Regions from separate parts of the Homo sapiens genome. Here region 2 is linked to region 1. The links come from fine-mapping of genetic effects on plasma protein levels. A gene starts in region 1. The other region holds a variant in brackets. All regions are shown on one strand. Distances are between the middles of the regions. Region 1 holds the start of GPHA2 (glycoprotein hormone subunit alpha 2). Region 2 overlaps MAJIN (membrane anchored junction protein).

Evidence for each region. PIP is the chance, under the fine-mapping model, that this variant and not a neighbour inherited with it causes the effect. Protein levels are from antibody-based Olink assays in UK Biobank. Linkage for the fine-mapping came from a reference panel and not from the study's own genotypes, which makes the PIPs less certain.
Region 2: its variant is fine-mapped to the plasma level of the GPHA2 protein (UK Biobank, PIP 0.93).

The regions. Positions count from the first base shown.
Region 1 is chr11:64,934,848-64,937,753 of GRCh38, reverse strand. It overlaps GPHA2 (glycoprotein hormone subunit alpha 2), which reads left to right and starts at 1,861. Exons shown (of 4, transcript NM_130769.4): 1 at 1,861-1,920; 2 at 2,294-2,396; 3 at 2,579-2,763; 4 at 2,880-2,906. The coding sequence starts at 2,294.
Region 2 is chr11:64,961,259-64,964,164 of GRCh38, reverse strand. The region is part of intron 1 of MAJIN (membrane anchored junction protein); the gene reads left to right. Among named protein-coding and RNA genes, the nearest start is that of MAJIN, 9.4 kb to the left of the region's middle. The variant G/T (reference allele first, on the strand shown) is at 1,840.

The DNA.
Region 1 (2,906 bases):
CTTTTTACCTGTTAGAGATGTCCAATATTAGAATGGGCTACCTCATAAGGTAATGAGCCTTGTCACCCAAATGCTTTAAACAGAAGCCATCATCTGTCACATGCCAGAGGGTGCCCCTCAAGAGTGGGAGAGCAGGGGCTGAACTGCTGAGTTCCCGCTGCGTCCTGTTGCTATGCTGCCTGCACCCTTGGTGGGGAGAAGAGAAGAGGTGGACTGCTGCGGAGGACCTGGCAAACAAGGACCCAGGTCTTGAGGGGATGGGGGCTGATGGGGAAACCGTAGGGTGTGGGAATTTAAGGATTAGTGACATTAGTAACATCACTTCCTCTCAAATTGCGTTTACAGCCTTTACTCGACTGTCCCAAACATGGCCTGTTTTACAAAGCTGCTAAGAAGCACAGCTCCAAATCTGGAGCTGTGAGTGCCCGCCCTGACTCTGACTAGCTTACAGTGAAGCTTTGGGAAGTTGTTTTCCGCTGAGCTCTTATTTTCTCATCCAGAAAATGAGGGGGTAGGATTTGGTGAGTTATAAAGTGCCTTCTAGCTCTAGCAGTCTGTGACTGGCCCTGCTCTTTCTGAGCAGATCAGTGAGGCAATGACCCCAAAGCGGGGCTGCCCAGAATCACCACAGGCTTCCTTTGGCTCTCCACCTTGCCCCAACCCCTCTGGCCACTGCTGCCTGGGGGTCTTTCTCCAGCTTGCCACATTCTTGCTCAAGTGTAGTTTAGCACCATGGATGGACAGCAGATTTGAATTTGAAATCAGCCCTAACATTAACTAGCTGGGTGACTTTTAGTAACTTTCTTTCTTTGAGCCTTAGTTGCCTCATCTATAAAACCAGAGTTGGACAAATAGATCAGCTTTGCTGGGGTTGATAACTTCAGGCCCTTTCAGGAGTCAGGTCCCTGTTATTCCAGGGCTAGGGGAGCACTCCAGCTCAGAACGTTACTCTGTAGCACAGGATGCGAATCATCCACTGATACCGTGGCCATGCAACTCTGAAACAGACAGCAACCCCCAAACCCCCGGCCCTGCCACCAAGCACATCTCAGGAGACCTCCACTGGTATAATTTCCCTTGTCCCTAAGAATCTCCTTCCCCAATCCCTTTCCTTTGCAGTTAGAAAAAGGCAAGCAGGACTGAGTTTAGTGGTTTTAAAATTAGGGGTGTGGCCAGGCACAGTGTCTCATGCCTGTAATTCTAGCACTTTGGGAGGCCTAAGCAGGCGGATCACTTGAGCTTAGCAGTTCAAGACCACCATGGGCAACATGGCAAAATCCTGTCTCTACAAAAAAATACAAAAGTTAGCTGGTCATAGTGGTGTGCCTGTGGTCCCAGCTACTCAGGAGGCTAAGGGGGAGGATGGCTTGAGTCTGGGAGGCTGGGAGGTGGAGGTTGCAGTGAGCCGAGATAACACCACCACACTCCAGCCTAGGTGACAGAGCCAGACCCTCTCAAAATAATAGTAATAAATAATAATAAAGTTAGGGGTGATCAGGCCCTGAACAGGGAAATGTTCTGTCCAAGGTCACAGAGCAAAGAGAACCCAGGTGTCCACAACTCAGCCAAGAGTCTTGACCCCTGTGTCGTCAGCTGCACACACGCTGCACACTCCACCAGCTCCTAGGCTTCTCTCCACATCTGACTTATCGAGGCCTGGGCTGTGGGTAGCTTTTTGGACAGAAAGAAGCAGAAAGCAGCAGGAGCTGCTCTCCGAGGACCGCACCTCAAAGAGCAAGATCCCCCAGGTGGGATCGCTCTGAGGCTTCAGGCAGGGGAGGCTGGTTTGAAAGCCGATCTCCAAGAGGGCGTGGCTCCAAAATGCTGGCAAATAAAAGCCTGGAGAGCCAGCACCAAGCTGGAGACCAGCAGGAGGCACAGGAAAACTGCAAGCCGCTCTGTTCCTGGGCCTCGGAAGTGGTGAGCTCGCTGAGGCAGGAGGAGCTCTGGGGAGGGTCTGGGAATGTGGACGAGGGCCCTGCAGGCCAAGATGGGGCAGATGGAGGGAGGAAGATGTTTGCGCTCCAGATGGCGAAGAAAATTCCAGGGAAGGGAGAATCACTGCACAGAGGGCTGACACACAGGTCCTTTCCAGAGACAGCTGCTCACACTCACACCCATACACACACACACACACACACAAAGGCAGATACAGGGAAAAGGCAGCACCATTCAGGCACACCTCACCTGTCAGACCAGCCAGCCCTGGCTCACTCACCTGGAATGCAGTATTTAAAGAACTCGCCATCCCACCTGCACACCCACGTAGAGACATCTCCCCACTGTGTTTCAGATGCCTATGGCGTCCCCTCAAACCCTGGTCCTCTATCTGCTGGTCCTGGCAGTCACTGAAGCCTGGGGCCAGGAGGCAGTCATCCCAGGCTGCCACTTGCACCGTGAGTACCTCTGGGACCGGAGGGCTAGGAGCAGTGGAGGTTCTGGGTGGGAGCAAAGAGCTGAGTGGACGGTGGGGCAGGCAGCACCCTAAAGGGCCCCACACTGAGGCACAGGCAACGGGAGCTGGGGCGAGGCAAACCTTGGCAGAGGCGCCGTCTACTGCTTGCCTATCTCCTTCTAGCCTTCAATGTGACAGTGCGAAGTGACCGCCAAGGCACCTGCCAGGGCTCCCACGTGGCACAGGCCTGTGTGGGCCACTGTGAGTCCAGCGCCTTCCCTTCTCGGTACTCTGTGCTGGTGGCCAGTGGTTACCGACACAACATCACCTCCGTCTCTCAGTGCTGCACCATCAGTGGCCTGAAGAAGGTGAGGAGGGCCCGGGCCCGGTGGATGGACGCTGGGGTCGCGGGAAGACCAGAGAGATGGAGATCCTAGACAGCCCTGAGAAAGGGGACTGCAGCACGGACTCCCCTCTCCCGCAGGTCAAAGTACAGCTGCAGTGTGTGGGG
Region 2 (2,906 bases), 26 kb before region 1:
CAAGACCAGGCTGGCCAACATGGTGAAACCCTGTCTCTACTAAAAAAAAATACAAAATTTAGGTGTGATGGTGCATGCCTGTAATCCCAGCTACGTGGGAGGCTGAGACAGGAGAATCACTTGAACCTGGGAGGCAAAGGTTGCAGTGAGCTGAGATCATGCTACTGCACTCCAGCTTGGGCAACAGAGTGAGACTCCGTCTCAAAAACAATGTGGAAGGAGCAGCTAGTCATCTGTCCTCAATCTCATTTCTAAAACACAGGTGTTGGATTCATAGCATCAGATTTTCATATTATATTTTGTTACCCACACTCATTAATGGTCTTGAGATGGGGTCTTGCTCTGTTGCCCAGGCTGGAGTGCAGTGGCGCAATCTTGGTTCATCGCAGCCTCCACCTCCCCGGGTTCAAGCGATTCTCTTGCCTCAGTCTCCCAAGTAGCTGGGATTACAGGTGCCCACCACCATGTCCAGCTAATTTTTGTATTTTTAGTAAAGACAGGGTTTCACCATGTTGGCCAGCCTGGTCTCAAACTCCCGACCTCAGGTGATCCACCTGCTGCAGCCTCCCAAAGTGCTGAGATTACAGTCGTGAGCCACTGCGCCCAGCCCAGTCAATGTATTTTGAATAAGTGCTTATGGAAGCTCTTTTATTTCTCAACACTGTGAAAGACTTTATCAGTTGTCACCAGACATATTTAGTAGCAGAGTGCTAAATCATAAGCTCCTTCTGCCTCAGTAGTCAATATTATTATCCTCATATAGCATTTGGCCCTGCTTCAGGTTCTATGCACTGATCCAGATGTTTATGTGAAGCAAATTACCAAAACCTTGAAAAATAATTTTCCTTCAAACATCAGTCCCTATGTGTCATTTACATCTAATTCTTGGGTATTTTCAAGGAAAAGTTCTTGGTTGGAATTTGTCAGATTTTGCATTGGGATTAAAGCTAATCAGTTTTGCACGTATGTGCTGTCTCAAGAATTGATTTCCTGGAAAGTAGTGCTCTCTTGAATTTGCTTTTTTTTGTTTGTTTTTTTGAGATGGACTCTCACTCTGTCCCCCATGCTGGAGTGCAGTGGCACGATCTTGGCTCACTGCAACCTCCGCAACCTGGGTTCAAGCAATTTTCATGTTTTAGCCTCCCGAGTAGCTGGGATTGCAGGTGCCCCCCACCACGCCCGGCCAATTTTTGTATTTTTAGTAGAGGCGGGGTTTCGCCACATTGGCCAGACTGGTCTCAAACTCCTGACCTCGGGTGGTCTGCCCACCTGAGCCTCCTAAAGTGCTGAGATTACAGGCGTGAGCTACCATGCCTGGCCTTGAATTTGCTTTTCTAGTGAAGCATTAGGGAGAAACTCTTCAAATCTATCGTAAGTGCTAACGTTTATATAATACTCTGGAATTTACAAAGTAGCTACTTACAGCATTATCTCATTTAATCCCCACATTCCAGGGGTCGTTGGAATCCCCATTTGTAGACATAGAAACTAGGAAATGAAGAAGTTAAGTGACTTGCTCAGGGACTAATGACTAATAGAGGCAGAAGCAGGACTCAAGCCTTGGTCCTCCAATTCCAAATCTTATGTCTTTTGCACTATCCCATACTGCCTGTAAGTTTTCTTCCTTTGTTTTAAAGCCATGATTTGTGGTCACCTAAAAATGCGTGGAGAGTCTGACCCTTCATAAGCAAGATCTCATCAACTTAATAATAGTTACTGGGACGTAATATCACCATGGCCACAGTACTCAATGTTGGAAAATAACCCTGTGAAATATTTGAACCATTACTCCTATGTGGTTGTTTGGGATACACTGTCTAATCTTTATTTTCAAATGAG[G/T]TAATTAGTGTATGGTGTTTGTTTCTGAATCGGGCAGCCAGCAATTAACAGGAACAGGCCCTAGCTAGAAGAGGGCTGTTTTTTCTTCTTTCAGACAGCCAGCTGTGGTACAACACATGAAATTTCCTCTTCGGACTGTCATTTCCAGCAAATGTCCTTCATTTCCTTTGCTCTGATGCCCCATCCCTCTGTTAGGGGTGGGGCGGGAGGCAAGTTATTGCATCCTAGTAGAATCCCCTGGCCAGATGGCAGTGGTTCATGCCTGTAATGCAGCACTTTGGGAGGCCAAGGCAGGAGGATCACTTGAGGCCAGGAGTTCAAGACTAGCCTGGGCAACATAGTGAGACCCTGTCTCCAAAAATTTTAAAAATTAGCTGGGCATGGTGGTATGCATCTGTAGTCCTAGCTACTCTGGAGGCTAAGGTGGGAGGATCCCTTGAGCCTAGGAGTTTGGCGCTGCAGTGAGCTATGGGTATACCACTGTACTCCAGCCTGGATGGCAGAGCAAGACCCTGTCTCTTAAAAAAAAAAAAAGAAAAGAAAAAAAAAGAGCCAGGCGCAGTGGCTCATGCCTGTAATCCCAGCACTTTGGGAGGCCGAGGCGGGCGGATCACAAGGCCAGGAGATCGAGACCATCCTGGCTAACACGGTGAAACCCCGTCTCTACTAAAAATACAAAAAAATTAGCCGGGCTTGGTGGCGGGCGCCTGTAGTCCCAGCTACTCTGGAGGCTGAGGCAGGAGAATGGCGTGAACCTGGGAGGTGGAGCTTGCAGTGAGCAGAGATCACGCCACTGCACTCCAGCCTGGGAGACAGAGCAAGACTCCGTCTCAAAAAAAAAAAAAAAAAAAAAAAAAATTGCCGGGCACAGTGGGTCATGCCTGTAATCCCAGCACTTTGGGAGGACGAAGCAGGCAGATCACCTGAGGTCAGGACTTCAAGACCAGTCTGGCCAACATGGTGAAGCCCGTCTCCACTAAAAATACAAAAATTAGCTGGGCGTGGTGGTGTATGCTTGTAGTCCCTGCTACTCGGGAGGCTGAGGCAGGAGGATCACTTGAACCTGG